Homo sapiens: one gene and its partners. The protein of the gene in region 4 purifies or fractionates together with the protein of the main gene of each other region. This does not show direct contact. Each region holds a gene or a part of one and is shown on either strand. Other genes may lie near its edges.

Evidence for each region. Proteins that work in one complex are often made in the same cells at the same time.
Region 1: the proteins of RIOK3 (region 4) and OSBPL5 purify together in Homo sapiens (affinity purification with mass spectrometry; one large-scale study listed by BioGRID and IntAct). This does not show direct contact.
Region 2: the proteins of RIOK3 (region 4) and ZMAT3 purify together in Homo sapiens (affinity purification with mass spectrometry; one large-scale study listed by BioGRID and IntAct). This does not show direct contact.
Region 3: the proteins of RIOK3 (region 4) and ASCC3 purify together in Homo sapiens (affinity purification with mass spectrometry; one large-scale study listed by BioGRID and IntAct). This does not show direct contact.

What each region holds. Positions count from the first base shown.
Region 1 is NC_000011.10:3,102,216-3,107,022, reverse strand, and holds part of OSBPL5 (oxysterol-binding protein-related protein 5), read left to right. Parts: intron 1-2,645; coding exon 2,646-2,830; intron 2,831-3,702; coding exon 3,703-3,784; intron 3,785-4,741; coding exon 4,742-4,807. UniProt on the Homo sapiens protein: Lipid transporter involved in lipid countertransport between the endoplasmic reticulum and the plasma membrane: specifically exchanges phosphatidylserine with phosphatidylinositol 4-phosphate (PI4P), delivering phosphatidylserine to the plasma membrane in exchange for PI4P, which is degraded by the SAC1/SACM1L phosphatase in the endoplasmic reticulum.
Region 2 is NC_000003.12:179,061,215-179,066,021, reverse strand, and holds part of ZMAT3 (zinc finger matrin-type protein 3), read left to right. Parts: intron 1-4,807. UniProt on the Homo sapiens protein: Acts as a bona fide target gene of p53/TP53. May play a role in the TP53-dependent growth regulatory pathway. May contribute to TP53-mediated apoptosis by regulation of TP53 expression and translocation to the nucleus and nucleolus.
Region 3 is NC_000006.12:100,650,235-100,655,041, reverse strand, and holds part of ASCC3 (activating signal cointegrator 1 complex subunit 3), read left to right. Parts: intron 1-2,152; coding exon 2,153-2,317; intron 2,318-3,395; coding exon 3,396-3,482; intron 3,483-4,327; coding exon 4,328-4,504; intron 4,505-4,807. UniProt on the Homo sapiens protein: ATPase involved both in DNA repair and rescue of stalled ribosomes. 3'-5' DNA helicase involved in repair of alkylated DNA: promotes DNA unwinding to generate single-stranded substrate needed for ALKBH3, enabling ALKBH3 to process alkylated N3-methylcytosine (3mC) within double-stranded regions.
Region 4 is NC_000018.10:23,473,355-23,478,161, forward strand, and holds part of RIOK3 (serine/threonine-protein kinase RIO3), read left to right. Parts: intron 1-74; coding exon 75-272; intron 273-1,593; coding exon 1,594-1,753; intron 1,754-3,651; coding exon 3,652-3,732; intron 3,733-3,802; exon of another isoform or gene 3,803-3,824; coding exon 3,825-3,914; intron 3,915-4,807.

The DNA.
Region 1 (4,807 bases), on a different chromosome or scaffold from region 4:
CAGGGGTTTGCTGCAGACAGGCAACTCCCTCCTTGGGCTGGAATGCGCTGATGGGAGAACAGGAGGCTCAAGAGGGGCCCTTGACCCCATCTGCTGGGCGGCCCCACTTCCTGGAGGAGCGCAGAGGAGGGCGTGTGGACCTGAGTCCCATGCTCACAGGCACCTGCACACCTGGTGCTCTCCTGGGGCCCTGGGAGAGCCATGAATGAGACAGACCTGGGCTCTGGGCCCCCAGTGTATGGGCAGCAGGAAACATAGATGATAAACCCACAAACACAAGAGGAGGCTGGGGAGCAGGTGAGGGAGGCAAACCGGGCCATGGGCTCTTTCTGAAGACGTGAGTGACGGGAGGGAGGATGGCGTTCCAAGAAGAAGGACCACCAGCGCACGAGCTCAAGGGAGGCAGCAGGCGGTGGGCAGCAGTGTCCCCAGAGCATGCCTGCAGATGAACAGCCAGGGCAGCTGACTCCCCGCAGCTGGAGAGAACTCACGTGGCCCTGGGCACCGTGGGGCGCCTCAGGAAGGGGAGTCCGGAAGGAATCACAGGATCTAAGCTTCCGCTGGGTGACGGGTGCAGGCTGAGGAAGCCGGGCTCTGGGGTGGGGGCTGCGCTCTGGGGTGGGGGCTGTCAGGAACGGGGGGCTCTGTGATCTGGGATCTTGTCATTCTCACCCGGGAGGCGAGACAAGAGCAAGGCCGTGGCTGTCACTGAGGGCAAGGGGCAGTCCCGGTTTCAGCAGGAAAGGGGAATTCGTTCCTTGCTGTTGTTTGGACAGCGTCGTGTTCGCATCTTGCTCTGCACAGGGACAGAGGGGGCTCCTCCGTGGTCCGTGAAATCCTTGTGTTCAGTGGAACACCATGGCCTCCCTGCGGGCTGCTGTTCCCACAGAGCTCAGGCTCCTGTGCGGGGATGGGAAGGTTAGGATGGGCCTATGGGGAGTGGACCGAGGGCCCTGGGGGCCTCAGGCTGAGAGTATTGGGGAAGCCACCGGCGGGTTAGGCAAGGGCCTCGGGACAGCCGAGGGGCGGGGGTGGACACTGGGCCACCCGTAGGGAAGACCCATTGTTAGGAGAAAGCTGAGGACACCCTGGACCCAGCTGTGATGGAGAAGGGAGAAGTGGGCAGACTCAGGGTATTTCGGAAGTTGGATTGGGTAGATCTCAGCCAGATGGTGATGAGCGACGCTGCTGTGAGCCAGGCAGAGCGGGCTGCTGCAGGTGCGAGCCTGGGGCTCCGGGCAGAGGGCATGGAGCGGGCAGCCAAGGGGCCCGGGCACCCAACCTTCAGAGGCCGAGCACAGATAAGGCTTCACAGAGGTGGGGCAGGGAGGTGGGAGGATCCAGGAGCCCAGGTGTCTCAGAGCCAGCTGGTCCGAGAGGTGGGGCAGGATGAGAAGCAGGGATGGCTGCTGGACCAGTGAGGAGTGGTGGGGACCTACGGCAAGACAGTCTCAGTAGAGAAGACGGCAGAAGCCTGGTGGAGAGGGTTAAGGAGGACGGGACGGGAGCACATGGACAGAGCAGGATTCCTGACAGCCGAAGCTACCCATGATTTCCAAGCCCCAAAGCTACAGCACTGGGCTCCCCATGACCCCTCATGGGGTCAGACATGGCTCCTGGGTGTCCACACACACTGTCCACTGGGCCAGTGCCACCAGGATCTGTCCGTGGCCATGCGTGCACAGAGAGGCGAAGCCATTTGCCTGAGGAGTCCCAGCAGCGGGGATGAGATCCTGATGCAGGACTCACAGGCCACACTCCATCTTGCCCGCTCCCTGGGGCAGCTGCCGTTGGGCTAAAAATGCAGAGAGCCCTGAGTTCAGATCTGACCTCTGCCGCATAGCAGCCGTGTGACCTTGGACAAGTCACTTGTCCCCTCTGTGGAGGGGGAGGACCAGGGTCCCCGTTCCCTGGGGCTGCGGTGAGGTGCAAGTCTGGAGTGAGTAAGGGGAGCCCCGCCACCCCAAGTCATGTATTCTGGAGCTGTGGTGAGGGTTAGATGTCTCAGAAAAGGAAGAGATGAGGGGGCCTTCGTGAGGGGCACACAGGCTTCGGAAGTGAGGGGTGAGTTCACATGCCCGTGTCGGTTTTGCAGGAGCAGGCTCACCTCCAAACTCACCCAGTTGTCCACATTCAATATCTGAAGGCTTCTGTATATCAATCAGACCTCAATAAAGTGGTTCAAAAACAGAAAAAGAAATGTTACAATAACCTTTTTTAAAAAATGGAAGAGCAGGCCAAATCCCTGCCTCCCCTGGCAGCTGTGAAGACAGGGTGGGCTGCAGTCTCTCTGTTCCCTGGGCCCAGGGTCCCACGATGCACAGACAGGTTTCAACAGCAGGTGTTGGGAGGCTGCACCCTGGACTTTGAGGAGGGCAGGGCATGGGGTCCCTGGGCAAGGAGCAGAGACAGGAGCGGGCCTGGACCTGGGCTGCGGGTGCTCCAGGGGTGGGGTGGAGACGCATTGGGAAGAGTTCACATCTGATGGGGCTGAGTCAGCCTCATGAGGCCATGGAGGCCAGGTCAGGGGTTTACACCCTAAGGGGTGGCAGGTACAGCCTCCTCCAGCCAGAGCTGCCACTGTCCCGCCACCCCTTCCTCCCGGCTCTTCCGGGCAGGGCCTGACTGCAGCCTGTCTGCTGCAGCTGGGCGAGGCGTCCCAGGTGGAGACAGTGTCAGAGGAGAACAAGAGTCTGATGTGGACCCTGCTGAAGCAGCTACGGCCAGGCATGGACCTGTCCCGCGTGGTGCTACCCACGTTCGTACTGGAGCCGCGCTCCTTCCTGAACAAGCTCTCCGACTACTACTACCACGCAGACCTGCTCTCCAGGTGCGCGCCATGCCGGGAGGGGCACCCCACACCTCGTCCTGCATCTGCATGAGACCCTGCAGCACCCCCAGCCCCTACCTGCCCTGTGGGGGCTTCCAGAGAATCCCATGGCTGATCTCAGCCCACTGTTTCTGCAGCTGTAGCCTCCCAGGGGGCCCTGTCTCCAAGATGGGCCTGGGAGGAGCCAGCCATCCGTGGTGAGAGGGGGGTCAGTCCCAAGCACTTGCCATGCACCCTGAGCCCTGCACCCTCGAGCTGGATGGGATGGGCTGCAGAGGCAGGAAGGGGGCTGCAGAGGCAGGAATGGGGCTACAGAGGCAGGAAGGGGGCTGCGCAGACTGGAAAGGGGCTGCAGAGGCTGGAAGGGGGCTGCGCAGGCAGGAAGAGGGCTGCAGAGGCAGGAAGGGACTGCAGAGGCTGGAAGGGGGCTGCAGAGCTGGAAGAGGGTTGCAGAGGCAGGAAGGGGCAGCAGAGCCTGGAAGGGGGTACGCAGGCTGGAAGGGGGCTGCAGAGACTGGAAGGGGGCAACAGAGGCAGGAAGGGGGCTGCAGGCTCAGGAGCCAGGCAGAGGGAGCAGGTGGGAACAAGAGCATGGGCAGGGAGGCTTCCTGGAGACAGGGGCACCCTGGCAGCCCAGGTCAGCAGTGTCCTCTCTGCCCCAGCGTGGGAGCAGCCCTGGCACTTTCTGATTAGAAGAACCCACTTCCCCAGAGAAAATTATCCTGCTTGGGGGTGACCAGAGCGCCTGGGCCAAGTGGCCTGTTTCCAGCTGAGTGGTTGGAGGTCGGGATGGTAGGAGGGAAGGGTCAGGGAAAGGGAGGGTGGCCCACGGCCCCCGGAGCTGGGGTCAGCGTTCTCCTGCCCCATGGCAGGGCTGCGGTGGAGGAGGATGCCTACAGCCGCATGAAGCTGGTGCTGCGGTGGTACCTGTCTGGCTTCTACAAGAAGCCCAAGGTGAGCCCCTGCCAGCCAGGGAGGGTGGGGCTCCGGCCCAGGAGTCTGTCTGCTCAGCCCTCGTCCCTTGGCACTTCCCTGAGTCCCCGGGCCACCCCCTACCCCACATGGCTTAGAAGGATCCTGGTCACCCCCACAGAGGGCCCAGGTCCTTGGTGATGGGGGACAGGGCCCCACTTCCCACAGTTGGGGCCCTGGATGGCTCAGGCCGGGTCCCCAAGGGTGGTCTCATCCCTCAAGGCCCCAAGCTGGACCCCTTCCCCACCCCCCAAGAAAACAGCCTCAGGCCGTATTACAGATGGTGCCAAAAGAAAGGAGCTTTAAACCTTAAACCTCAAGGTACCTTTGGGATCTGTGGTTTTCATAAATTTTTAGCCATGGAAACCCCTTTTAGAACCCCAAACCCAGGACTCCAGTGACAGCAGGGCTGCTCTCGTTGTAGTGAGCAAGAGGGCCCGCAGCTCCCCTGACCCCACCACAGAGCCCTGGGGTTCCATGGGAAGCAAGTTTGAAAACCACGACCGTGGTTCCACTTCTTTATTGTGCAGATGGGGAAACTGAGGCTCAGGTGAAAGGATGGCCTGAGTCGTACAGCAGGTTTGGGGTAGAGGCAGGACTTCTGACTGCCTGGTGCCTTCCATGGCTTTCAGCAGGCTGTGTGCAGGTTACACCCAAGGTCCAAGGAGAGTGTGACAAGGTCAGGGTCTCGTGTCCCTTCTCCGAGCTAAGAAGTGGACAGGATTCCCCTGAGGCTGTCCCCCAAGAATGTAAACCACAGGCAAAGCATAGTCCCCGCAAAGCAGAAGTGAGGTGTTGTTCCCAGATGCTAGCAGCAAACCAGGCCAGCAGGCAGCGGGTAGCCCACCCACGCTGCCCCTCCGTCCACATCCCTCACCTGCTCTGCACAGCGGACCTCTTACCCACCTGGCTCCTCACACAAGTCTCTGTTGTCTGCAGGGAATCAAGAAGCCGTACAACCCCATCCTGGGGGAGACCTTCCGCTGCTGCTGGTTCCACCCGCAG
Region 2 (4,807 bases), on a different chromosome or scaffold from region 4:
GTTCTAAAGGTTTAATTATTAGCCATATAAAGCCCCTAACAAATCATTAACTTGGGGGCAAACCCACTTGTATGCTATACACATATATAATTATCTTTATTTATTTATTTTTTTTTGAGACAGAGTCTCGCTCTGTTGCCCAGGCTGGAGTGCAGTGGCGCGATCTTGGCTCACTGCAGCCCCTGTCTCCGGGGTTCAAGCGATTCTCATGCCTCACCCTCTCGAGTAGCTGGGATTACAGGCACACACCAGCACACCCAGCTAATTTTTGTATTTTTGGTAGAGATGGAGGTTTGCCATGTTGGCTAGATTCAGCCTCCCAAAGCGCTGGGATTACAGGCGTGAGTGACCTACCGCACCCAGCCTATAATTCCCTTTTAAGGAAGAGTTGTTTACTTTTATGAGGGAAAACTCTCGGGCAGTGTGTAATTTTAACATGTCCATGGATTATACATATACCTTATTTCTTTTTTTCTCCTAATAAAACTTTTTGACTTCATGGACTTTGAAAGGTGCTACTGATGATACATAGAGAAGATTCAGTTTGATGCAAGGTCTTTGGATTATAAGGCTAAAACTAGATAAGCAGAATCAACATTTGTTTTTTTCTTTTATTTTACATTTTTGCGTATGTTCTAAACTATGTAGTTGACAAGATTAGTAATTATACTTAATTTCAGTTTCCTCAGTGATACAGTGAATAAATAAATTAGAAAATATAAGAAAAGGGAAATACAATTTAGGTAAATTTCTCAAAAATCAGAATTTTTAAGTGGAAAGGTTGAAGGAGAACAGGATGTAATGGGACAATTTAAGCAGCTAAAAACCAGGGTAAAGATGGGAAAGAAAAGAGGCAAGCAAGTAATCAGAAAGTAGGAGCTTACAGAAAATGAAAAGTTTGGGTATAATAAAGTATATTGCTAAGACTTCAGAAGCAAAGATTCGAATGAGACTGATGTTATTGGTAACTCTTAAAGAGAGAAGGTTTTAACAGACAACTAAGGCAAAGCAGTTCATGTGTAAAAATACAGAGCAATTATGTTAGGGTAACATAGAAGAAAGGTAATCTTAGAAGTGAAATCTGGATTTCAATAAGATAGAAATGGTCAAGATGAGAGTGGATAGTGCAAAGTGTAGATCAGAATAATAAACAGAGTGTGAACATAACTCTAGAAGTGGGTGAGCTACCAAAGAAGGAAAGCGTAGAAATGTTAGCCAAAAAGATGCATCAGAGGGTGTACATGAATAAGCAGTAATAAAAGAAAGATTACTGAAGACAAGGCTAAGACCAGGCCAGGTGTGGTGCCTCACACCTGTAATTCTAGCACTTTGGGAGGCTGAGGCGGGAAGATAGTTTGCGTTCAGGAGTTCAAGACCAGCATGGACAGCATAACAAGACCCTGTCTCTACAAAAATACAAGGAAATTAGCTGGGCATAGTGGCAGACACTTGTAGTCCCAGCTACTCGTGAGGCTGAGACAGGAGGCTCACTTGAGCCTGGGAGATTGAGGCAGCAGTGAGCTATAATCATGCCACTGCACTCCAGCAAACAAAGACAACAACAAAAAACACACAAAAAAGAGAAGGATAAGACCAATGAGTAAGGCTTACCAAGCACAGGAATAAGTAGAATGCCAATGATTGTAGACTAATAAAGTGGTTTAGGATTAAATGAGATGATGGATGTAAAATTTTATTTCAAGACTAAAAACTTACTAATTTTTAATACAGAGCATTACCAAGCTGTACCTTCATTATTTCAGTTATGTGTGAGATAAAATGGGTCACGGGTAGCCTGTTTATGAGCTAGAAACACATTTGTGTGAAGTGATAAATCACTGTGATTACATTACTCAAAACTTTTTAGTCAGTTGATGCCATTGTTGAAATCGTGGAGTTTCAAATTGCCTCGGGTATTGTAAACAATGGTGGTTACACTAGAGCCGGACTGTATCATGTGCCAGTAATCCAGGACACGCAGTGGAAACTGCCCAATAAATACTTCCCTTTAAGCTCACTAGCATTTTTTCCTGACATCCCAGTGTTCCCAAGCTGGGGCTACCTTAGCAGTGACCCATGTGTATCTGTAGTCATCACAGATTTAGTTTTATTCCAAGGACTTTTAAAAACTGGTCAGTTGGCTTCAAAACATCATTAGCTATTGTTTTATTTTTAATGAAGCCATCAAATATTATATTCTTAAAATTAGGGCTTTGGATATAACTTAATTTAAAATCCAATCTTTGGAGGAGAAACATATTTTCATTTTATTAAAGTCTATCTGCAGGCTTCAGGTTACTTAGGGCAAGGCTGGCATGGGGTAACATACCACTGTTTCATCAGCATAAATGCCCAGAGGAAGAATTGCTTTAGCAGGGAAGGTTATTAACAGAAATAAAGAAAAGCAAAAAGCACGGATGAATTTTGCTAAGGCATCCACAGTTTAAAGTCACCAGTTTATTTGCTAATTTGCATGTATATATTTAAAAAGATCTACTTACTCAAAGTACATTTATAAAATTTGTCATAAACATGGCTTTCTATTTGTAATAGTTAGTGGCCAGATAGCAACCTACCATGAATTAGATTGATTAGAGAAAGAGAACACAGGTGAAAGAATAGTTTTAGAATTAGGATGCTGAGTGTAGTGGTCTTAATTCATAATTCATAATGAAGAGAATGCTATTAGATTTTTCCCAAAATTTAAAGCACTGATTTTGGCACTTACATTTTAATATTGATCACCCAGGTTTGGATCACTGAATTAAATCTCAGCTAATTTTCATGTATTCAAAATTCTCCTATCTGATTTTTTTCCAAATGGACTTGCAGTGGACTGAGAATGGCCAAAACACACTTCAGATTTGGTTTTAATGCATGTGCTTTACACGTGGCATATATGCTTTGGAATCTAACAACTTTGGGCTAGGATCTTGGCTCAGTTACTTTAGGCAAGACACTGAATCTCTCTTTATTCAATATCTGTAAAGTAGGGGTCATTGTACTTCCTCTGCAGGATTGTGAGACTTGCATATGTTATCTTAATAAATGCTGGTTGATTGAAATAGGTTGCTATTGTTTAGAAGTGTTTGGGTCTCAAATGAGCAGAATGAGATGGCACACAGCTGTCTTACTGTTGTTACTACCTTGATAGTAACTTGCTGTAGGACCTTGTGTAAATAAGCAAAACTTTGTTTTCCTTGATTGTTCTCCCGAGATAGTCTTTTAGATCCAGATACCAGGTTACCTTAAAAGATTCTCATGAAGAATAATTCAACCAACAAATGAGGCAAAATAAAATGATTTTCAAATGTAAATATGCTTTCAACCATACTACTCGTCTGTCAGCTTAGTCCATTTACCCAATAATCAATCCTTGTTGGTTTTCTTGTTCTGCTCTCTGAAATCGCCAGCTCTGTAGGCTTTTCTAGCTCTTGCTTTGATCACTTTAGAGGACAGAAGCTCTCTGTGATCCTGCCAGTTTTTTGCCTCCTCCTCTAGTCTACCCCTACCTCATTTCTTCTTATTTCGAAATGATAGATACCCTTTCTTTTGTCCAAGTTTGATTCCTCATCCTGTTTTCTGGATTTCATCACCTTTTCACCTCAATCAAAAACTATGCCCAAGTCTTTTCTATATAAATAAAAATAGCAGCAGCAACCTTCTGTTTACTTTTAATCCCTTCTATTAGCAACCTTTCTCCTCTCCTCTCCTGTCCTTAGCATTCTGCAGGTAGAATTGTTCTCTTCAGGTCTTTATTTCCCATTCATTCCTCAGCCCACTGTACTCTGATTTCCATTCCTATAGGCCGCTGAAATGGTCCTTTCCATTGTCACCATGATCTTACAGGCCAAATCTAACTCCTTCTCACTTGACCCCTTTGTAGCATTAGCCAATGGTAACAACTTTCTCCTAAAAAAATTTAAAAATATTTTTATTTAAAATAATGCCTGAGGAACCAAAGGATTTATAATGAAAAGTAGTAATCACCTGTTCTCCACCCATTCCCTACCTTTTTTTTCCTCTCCATTCTCTTCTCCTTTCTGACTCCCAACTTGAGCTGGCTATAGTTTTACTTTGACACTGTCAAGATTGATCACATTTTTATCCATTCTGTCATCAAATTAAGTTTTCCATGCTCTATTTGCAGGTTGATGCCAATTGTTGAAAATTAACATTGAGTTTTTGCATTATTGTGAATAGGGAATTTTGCACTATTATGAGTGGGGAAATATTGTTCACTGCAGAGCTGTTTCCTTCCCTGTATTTCCAGTGTCATGATCCCATGCTACTCACAAGAGATGTTCAAATAGGTAACCCTTTCCTGAATGCCACCAGTTGCTCAAAATTGTGTCTATTTTAGTTTGCTTCATATGTGGATTATAACTTTGAAATAACTTTTTGTTTTTCCTTGAGTTTCTGGTACTTAAAAAAAAAACTAGAGAGAAGAATCTTAAGCCTTTCAAAAAAGGTATTAGCATCTCAATCTTTCTTTATATTGCTTACAACCCATTTCATTTATCTTCATGAAACCCACTGTTTTCTGATTCTGATTTTGACTAGTTGTTCTAATTTGGATTAGTTGTTCCATATTTGAATCACTACTTCATTGTGTAGGTTTTGTATTTCCCGGAGATTTTAGTTGCTTTTCTTCTCCCCTCTTTTTCTTGCATTATATTTTTCATATTATCGTTCTCCCCTCCATCCCTAAATCTCAACCCCACTATTTATTGTATGGAATTTTCCTTTTATCCTAGATCCCTCTATCTCCTTGCTCCATTTTCAGCTGGAGTCTGTTGGGTTTGCT
Region 3 (4,807 bases), on a different chromosome or scaffold from region 4:
AAACATTATTCTACAATGATCATATGGATATTAACTAGTATTAAGTCAAAATTTGTATAAGTTGAACTTTATTCAAAATTATAGTTTCCCCTAATTTACTATGACTTAGTTTTTATATGAATCCTATTGTGTTATCAAAGCAGTTACCAATTTTTAAATTTTTATTTCTTTTATTTTTTTCTTTCCCTATGCAGTAGATTTTACCATGGGAAAATTGAAACTTAAGGCTTGCGGGAGGAAAAATAAGAAAAGCAGCAGCAGCAATTAGTTCTGAGGCTGTTAAATCTAAAGCCGTTATTAGGTTTTTATACTTAGATTTACTCTAGATGGGACTCACCTACCTTTCTTTGTCTCAGTTGAAATTTGTGCTAATCTTTAAATGAATGTTTACATTTACAGCCAAATTGCTCTGTTATAACATATAACTGCATTATAACCTGTAACCTTACACATTTAAAGAATATGGCACTAGTTATTCCCATCACAAATATGGGCATTTTGAGAAGACCCAGTGGCACTATGAAAATGTTTTGAAGGAGTAAAGAAAAACAAAAACTAAACAATTTATTTTTACGGACTAAGCCATCTCAAATTTTGGAACAAGATAAATACATCAATTGACTTTAAAGTACTAGGTTATAATCAAAAGTCATTTGCCTTTCATTTTCCAGTATAAAGACCTTTTGGATACATAGTACCTTTATACGTCAGAAAATCTTGACCCTTTTTTTTTTTTTTGATTTGTGTGTTTTAATGTTATTACTCAATACAAATTTGTGGCCACAAAACTCTTATGAACTAACACAGATAAAACAGTTTAGCATATTTTTGATGGTTTAGTAATAGGTGATTAATAAAATAGTTTTATAAGTTGAACCTGATACATATATTATCACTCATAGCAAACATTTAAGACTTTTTGTATTTGCTGATGTAACTCTTGACTCCATCTTACTTCCCTGCAGTTGATATTCTTTTGCTCCATTTTCCTGATTTTTAAAATTTATTTTAGCTATATTTTGTACATAAATAAGCTGCCATAAATATCTAAGTTAGAACAAATGGTAGTAGTGTTAACTCATTAATTGATTTCTAAATTGTTTTAATACTCCCCCTACTCCATTAAAGGTCATATTTCACTTTACTCCTCATGACTACAGAGTGTTCCTTAATAATTGGCATGTGTACATACATATATTTATACACAATACTATAGTAACAAGAATATTTGTTAATATCTTATGTTTTATTATTTCTGCTTAGAAAAAGTATTAGATAAGTAATAGTTTTAAAACTATACAAAAATTCACTGTCAACTTTATTTACTTTAGAATGGGTTCTCCCATCTGCATATAATAATAATAAAAGTAAAAAGTAAGTAAAGTGAGCCAAGATCACGCCACTGCACTCCAGCCTCGCTCTGTCGCCCAGGTTGGAGTGCAGTGGCATGATCTTGGCTCACTGCAACCTCTGTCTCCTGGGTTCAAGTGATTCTCCTGCCTCAGCCGCCTGAGTAGCTGGGATTACAGGCGCGCACCACCATACCCAGCTAATTTTTGTATTTTTAGTAGAGATGGGGTTTCTCCTTGTTTGTCAGGCTGCTCTGAAACTTCTGACCTCGTGAGCCGCCCACCTTGGCCTCCCAAAGTGCTGGGATTACAGGTGTGAGCCACTGTGCCCGGCCGGATAACTTTGCAGTTCTAAATATATCTTGATTTTGACAGGGAAAGCATTCTTGCTATCATTTCTCCAAATAACTGATAATAAAGTAGGAATATGATTTGACAATTTAAAATCCCTATTTACTTTAGTATGGGAGAAAGAAGACAATTATTGAGTTTTTAAAATTTGATTTTTAATCTTTGTGATTTTAAAGATCATAAGATCATATAAGAATTTTAGATTCCAAAATATTGGTATCTGAAAAGAATATGCACATTGATAATTTTAATGAATTTTTAAGCTTCCTTTATTTAATGGCATAAAATATTTTCAATTATTTCCTAAATGTAGAAAAATGTACTTTAAAAATTGTAATTAAAAAGTCTAACTAAAACATTAAGAAAAGTTTTAATTTCCATAAATAAATATATGTTTGCAAATGGTTACTCTCTAAAGCACTATTCAACTGTTTATATATTTTTTGCCATAGATTGACCCAACATTAAGAAAGCATCGAGAACAGTTGGTCATTGAAGTTGGACGAAAACTAGACAAAGCTCAGATGATTCGTTTTGAGGAGCGAACTGGATATTTTTCCTCAACTGATTTGGGTAGAACTGCCAGCCATTACTATATTAAATACAACACCATTGAGGTATTATACTAATGCAAATATGTTTGATTTTAGATGCAAATACTTTCTAGACTTCAAAATATATTATTAATGTAAAATAATGAAAGCAAATAATAGAACAAAATCCATTTAACTTATATGAATTCAACAGTATACCCTCAGTAAAGACAAGAAAAAAATAAAACTTCAGATACTAAGGAACCTCTTGTCATCCTATTCAATGAGTGTATCCCAAGCAATAAACACACCCAAGCCTAAATAGTCAAGGCACATTTGCTTTTACATGTAACGGTTTTCAGAAAACACCTCATGTGCTTACTAACTTTCCCCCGTCTTTCCCCAAATAAACCTTCTATTTGTATAGCACTTTAGGTTTCTTCAAAACCTTTAAACATATATTATCTCAGAACTATGATCCGGTTGAAATCAATCCAACACGTTGTCTCTGGCTTTTCACTCCTTCCATCACCTATTCACATCCACTCATTTTGTCAAAGTAACTTTTTAAATTTGTTCACTTGCTAGTGTGTTGCTACCACTCTATATCCTAAACCTGTTTGCTGTTCTTTTGCAGGAACTTTAGGCATTCTTTAGCATTTGTCTTCAATCTATGTGGCCTTTGACTGATTTTTTTCAACTCAGTTTTCTAATTTTCTGTATGTCCTCACTAGTAATATTTTGAGAATTTTCAGACTACATATTTTCTAGATATACATCTCTGAATTTTATGATACATGATCAGCTTAGAATTCGTGAATTGTGCAGATTTCCACATGGCCATGCTGAAAATAAGCACAAACCAGAATTTTATTAACTTTTTAAAGGTATCTAGTGTAGATGTTATTAACTTTTATTCACCATCCATCTTTTTGCTGCTAAAGATCTTCCTTAGCTAATTATGTTCTAGGAATTTTCTTTGGTCTTTGATAAATTTGTTGATGTTTATAAAGCAGTGACTTTAAATACTGTAACACAGACATTATAACTGCACTGTCTAGGGCTCAAATTTCTTTTAAAATGTGTAATTTATAGTCACATTTTTAATTTAAAATATTTAAAATATTTTTATTTTAATCAAATATAACACTTACTTTGGTAGACCTTTAATGAACTCTTTGATGCTCACAAAACAGAAGGTGATATCTTTGCCATAGTCTCCAAAGCTGAAGAATTTGATCAAATTAAGGTAAGATTTCTTGAAATTTGAATCAAATGCATACAACATGTATGCATTCATTCATTTATAAAAGGTTCTCATTAATACCATATAAGCTGTATGGCACATCACATTTGGAATATCAGCAATGTTCTTCATTTAACAATAAGACCCACTGTCCTAGATTATAATATTACATCATACCTGACATCATTCTTTTCTCTGTACTCCACATCAAATAATTTAAATTGGTTTTGCAGTAATGAAACTGTTGAAGAATGTAGTATGAAGATTTTGGTTTATTGCAATATAAGGCTCATTGAAGAAAATGTAAAAGTACCTGTATGATTCAAACCTTAGATATGAGTATTTCTGTACCTGTATTAATATTTAATCTTATTAACAGTGAAAACTTTAATACTTTGAATCATAGTACTTCATGGCTTTAAGCTATGAATGTATTATACCATATAAAAATATATGACTATAATGAATGCATTTGAAGATAATTCAAGTTGCCCTAATCCAGTTGGGCAGAGGTTTTACTCTGGTCAAATAAAATATGAAATCTCATCAATTCAAGGATGGTGAGGTCAGAAGATTTAATTTTTTGGCATATCAAATTTTTATATGTCAATGGCAAATTTAATATTGGTGATGAATAATAAAATGTAATTGTATCAGCCTCAAGATCATTTCATATTGCAGTTTTTTAGCTACCTATGGAAAAATCATTGTTATTTAACTCTATGAAAGAAAAATGCTGCATTATAGTAAATGGAAACTCTTTAAAAACATGCAATGTATTTAATTTCAATGTGAAAAATTTAAATAAATCAGCCCCAAAATTCCAATAAATACATTGATTCTTCTAGGTCAGAGAAGAGGAAATAGAGGAGTTAGATACCTTATTAAGCAATTTTTGTGAACTCTCCACTCCTGGAGGTGTAGAGAATAGTTATGGGAAAATAAACATCTTACTTCAAACTTATATCAGCCGAGGAGAAATGGACAGTTTCTCCCTTATATCAGATTCTGCATATGTTGCACAGGTAAGTATCTTATTCCCTTCCAGTTTTCTCTTCCTTGAATATATTTAGAGGACCAAGGTGTTAATTCATGCTGTGCTATGAATGCATTGCTTTGTGACATGCTACCAAACCACCATTTTACTTAGAACTGTTTCTGCTAATTTGTAAATATTTTATGTAATCTATGCTCATAAAACAGGACTGGGGATGAGATTTGGTGACTGATAGGGCTTTTTTTGGTGATGTTGATGTTTCTTACAAAGTTTTAAAATGATACCTGATTTTTTTCTACTTTAAATGATGAATTTCATTTCTTTTACTTAT
Region 4 (4,807 bases):
GAATCTTTATTTTGAAATTGTTGTACTTGTGAGCTGGCAACTTGTACTGACTTGATTTTTTTTCTTCCACTTAGCATGGAGGATGAAAAGGAAGATAGTAAAGTTATACCTACAGAATGTGCCATCAAGGTATTTAAAACAACCCTTAATGAATTTAAGAATCGTGACAAATATATTAAAGATGATTTCAGGTTTAAAGATCGCTTCAGTAAACTAAATCCACGTAAGATCATCCGCATGTGGGCAGAAAAAGAAATGCACAATCTCGCAAGGTAAAGAAAATATTGTGCTAGACGTAATCTTGGGTAAATACCTTTTTGCATTAGGATAAAAAAATCCATGCTTTCTTTTACATTCATTTATAGAAATAATGAAAGGCCAGGTGTATAACCTCGATTCATACTTTTAGGATGAAAAAGCCATTTTCTTTTTTCTTTCCTCAATGAAGCTTGAGGGAAATCTGGGCATTTTCTGCCTTAGACACTTTATCATATATCTAAATGCCATTTTTAAATTGCTTTTATCACGAAGTAAAACTTCCAGCATCCAATTAGGCTTAGCATAAAAAAATGGTTTCTTTTTTGTTTCAGAAAATGTTTGTTGCATTTAATTTGTTAATTTTGTGGGAGTAAGTTCTTACCAATCAAATTACATTTTGTTTTAATTTTTATACTTGTATCTGAATTTTCTAAGCAATTTATTTTCTATCAAAGAATTTGTTTTGTCAACCAAGAAATTCAGTAATAATCCTTCTCATTAAAAACCTTTCTATTATCTTAATTTATTAAAAGCTTAATTTTAGTTTGTTATTTTCTAAAGATATTTGCTTTCAAAAGTAATTATTCATATATATCAGTTACAAAATTCTTCTACTGAGAGTTCCCCACCAAAATAAGCCAGGCATGGTGTGCACGTGTACTCCCAGCTACTTGGGAGGCTGAGATGGGAGGACTGCTTGAACCTAGGAGTTCAAAACCAGCCTGGAAACGTTAGACTCCCAAGACCTTGTCTCAAAAAGAAAAAAAAATGTTTTTTCAATAAATTAATTAATTCCAGGTAGAATCATTTTCTAGAAGGTCTTGCTGTCCTCCAGTCTCTTTTCTGTACTCCTGAAATTCCTGCCTTTCTTAAAATTCTTCAACAGTTTTCCATAGTGGAGCTTGCCTGTCTTTGTAGCCTCAGCCCACATTGCCCTTCCTCCTACTCACAGATCCAGCTATGTTGATTGATATACATTCCCCAAATGGACTGTGCTCTTGAACACCTCCCTGCATTCCCTTGCACTGTCTTTATCTGGCTAATTCCTGTTCCCTACCTCTTCTTCTAATAAGCCATCCTTGGTGCTGTGTGCTCCTGTAGCTCCTACCCATACCTCTGCCAGTGCGTAATTGTAATTGTCTCTTGTCTGTCATTTCCATCAGTCCCTGAGCTCTCTATGGGCAGAGGCTGTGTTTTACTGTCTTTGTATTCCCACATCACCAGGGTAGAACATAGTGCCAGCTCATTGCAGGCCCTGATTAGATATTTATTGAATAAATGACATATTTTCTCTCCTTCTGATCTGTATATTCTGAATCATTTCTTTATGTATAGAATGCAGAGAGCTGGAATTCCTTGTCCAACAGTTGTACTACTGAAGAAACACATTTTAGTTATGTCTTTTATTGGCCATGATCAAGTTCCAGCCCCTAAATTAAAAGAAGTAAAGCTCAATAGTGAAGAAATGAAAGAAGCCTACTATCAAACTCTTCATGTAAGTTGTGCTTTTAAAAGAATTCACACACTACCTTTAAAAAATATTTCCTCTAAACTTTAAAAAAATTTCCTTAAAGAAGCCAGGCATGTTGGCTCACACTTGTAATCTAGAACTTTGGGAGGCTCAGGCAGTAGGATCACTTGAGCCCAGGAGTTTGAGACCAGCCTGGGCAACATGGTGAAACCCTGTCTCTACTAAAAATACAAAAAAATTAGCTGGGCGTGTGCCTGTAATCCCAGCTACTCGGGATGCTGAGGCAGGGGAATTGCTTGAACCAGGGAGGTAGAGGTTGCAGTGAACCAAGATTGCACCACTGCACTCCAGCCTGGGTGACAGAGTAAGACTCTGTCTCAAAAAAAAAAAAAAAAAATTAAAAATTAGCTGGGCACACACCTGTAGTCCCAGCTACTCGGGAGTCTAAGGTGGGAGGATCACTTGCACCCAGGAATTTAAGGCAGCAGTGAGCTATGATTGTGCCACTGCACCCCAGCCTGGGCAAGAAATAGAGCAAGACCCTATGTCTTAAAAAACAAACAAAAAAACCCAAGTTCCTTAGATAGTGCTATTTCAAGGTGCTATAACAAAGACAAGTTGAAGTTTGTGAAAGAATGTTAACACTGAAGAGTTGTTTTTCTATCAATATGTGTGTGTCTTAAATAGTTTTAGAAAACTTACAGACTTAACCAGGGAAGTCGTCATTGTTAGGATTAGTGACACAGTGCATGAAGCTATTTTTCACCAAACTTCATTAAATAAAATTTGCTGTTAGTACATTTAGCAAAGTGCCTCATTAGTTTGTGAGCTTTCATGAATGTTATAGTTTTTTGGGGCTTTTTTTTTTTTTTTTTTTTTTCAAATAAGAGACAGGGTCTCACTATGTTGCCCAGGCTGGTCTCGAACTCCTGGGCTCAAGTGATCCTCTTGCCTCAGCATCCCAAAGTGCTGGGATTACTGGTGTGAGCCACCACACCCAGCCATTGAATGTTACAGCTTTAACAGTGAAGGAAAGGAAGCAGGTCTGGTCTCATCATAAGAGAGTGATGATGAAAATTGAAAACAGTAGGGAGTGCAGGTGTTAAGTTGGAAGGCATGTTGGGAATCTCAAGGAAACTACATGCTTTGAAATAGCAACTGAATTCAATCTGAGGGCCTTCCAGGTTGAGACAATGCTCCTAATACTGCCATTATCCCTCTGTGTTTTAATTGAACACTGGAGAAACTTAATGTGCTACTTTATGCAATCTCCACATGAAGCTGTCATGTAATGCAGCCATTGATCTAGATATGGAAATTTTAATCCAAATTAATTTTTAAAGATATAGCTAGAAAGGTGATCCACCTTTCTCTGCCTCCAAAGGTAAACATTGAAAGGAAAATCAAGTATGTTTTTCTGGCCTCTTTGGGAGGTGGGGTGGCTGGGGAAGAGATTAAATAGTGATGAAACTTTTCTATTTAATTCTATTAAGGCTGGAAAACAAATGCATTAATGTTGATTTCTACTGTAAGACTTTGAGGGGGGCTGGGCGCAGTGCTCACGCCTGTAATCCCAGCACTCTGGGAGGCCGAGGTGGGCAGGTCACGAGGTCAGGAGATTGAGACCATCCTAACTAACATGGTGAAACCCCATCTCTACTAAAAAAAATTACAAAAAATTAGCCAGGAGTGGTGGTGGGTGCCTGTAGTCCGAGCTACTTGGGAGGCTGAGGCAGGAGAATGGTGTGAACCAGGGAGGCGGAGCTTGCAGTGAGCTGAGATCACACCACTGCACTCCAGCCTGGGCGACAGAGTGAGACTCTGTCTCCAAAAAAATAAAAAATAAAAAACTTTCAGGGGTGTCATCATCAATAATACCACTTAATTATTCATTTCCTAATGTGTGCCTTCCCTCTTCACAGTTGATGCGGCAGTTATATCATGAATGTACGCTTGTCCATGCTGACCTCAGTGAGTATAACATGCTGTGGCATGCTGGAAAGGTGAGGAGCACATTTTGTTAACATTCAGATTTAATTACTGTAAGTAAAATTTAAAATGTAAATACATCAGTTCATGTTCTGTATTGAAATAGGTCTGGTTGATCGATGTCAGTCAGTCAGTAGAACCTACCCACCCTCACGGCCTGGAGTTCTTGTTCCGGGACTGCAGGAATGTCTCGCAGGTAGACGTGTAAACCAATATGCCTTTTTTTGTTGGATGTAACAGCTGCAGGTATTTTTCTCACTCCTAAGATAAGTAAGAGGACCATATTCTTAGAAATTGAAGGAAGGGATACGGGCTGCTTTCAGGACAAGGATATAAAGATCAATTTGTCATATTTCATTTTGCAAGAATTTGATTCCATGTCTTACAGTTGGGTAAAATGTTCAAGGGGTGCCAGGTATGGTGGCTCACGCCTGTAATCCCAGCACTTTGGGAGGGTGAGGTGGGTGGATCATTTGATGTCAGAGGTTCAAGACCAGCCTGGCCAACATGGTGAAACCCCATCTCTACTAAAAATGCAAAATTAGCCGGGCATGGTGGCAGGCGCCTGTAATCCCAGCTACTTGGGAGGCTGAGGCAGGAGACTCACTTGAACCTGGGAGGCAGAGGCTGCAGTGAGCCAAGAACGTGCTACTGCACTCCACCCAGCCTGGGCAACAGAGTGAGGCTCCGTCTCAAAAAAAAAAAAAAAAAAATATGCCAGGTGCAGTGGTTCATGCCTGTAATCCCAGCACTTTGGGAGGCCAAGGTGGGTGGATCACCTGAGGTCAGGAGTTCAAGACCAGCCCGGCCAACATGGTGAAACGCTGTCTGTACGAAAAATACAAAAAAATTAGTTGGGTGCGGTAGCGTGTGCCTGTAATCCCAGCTAGTTGGGAGGCTGAGGAAGGAGAATCACTTGAGCCTGGGAATCGGAGGTTGCAGTGAGCCAAGGTTGCGCCATTGCACTCCAGCCTGGGTGACAGAGCAAGACTCCTTCTCCAAAAAAAAAAAAAAAAATGTTAAAGGGAATAAGTGAGTGTTTTGGCTCCTTGTATATAAGCAGTCGAGTAGACATTTAATGTGTGCATA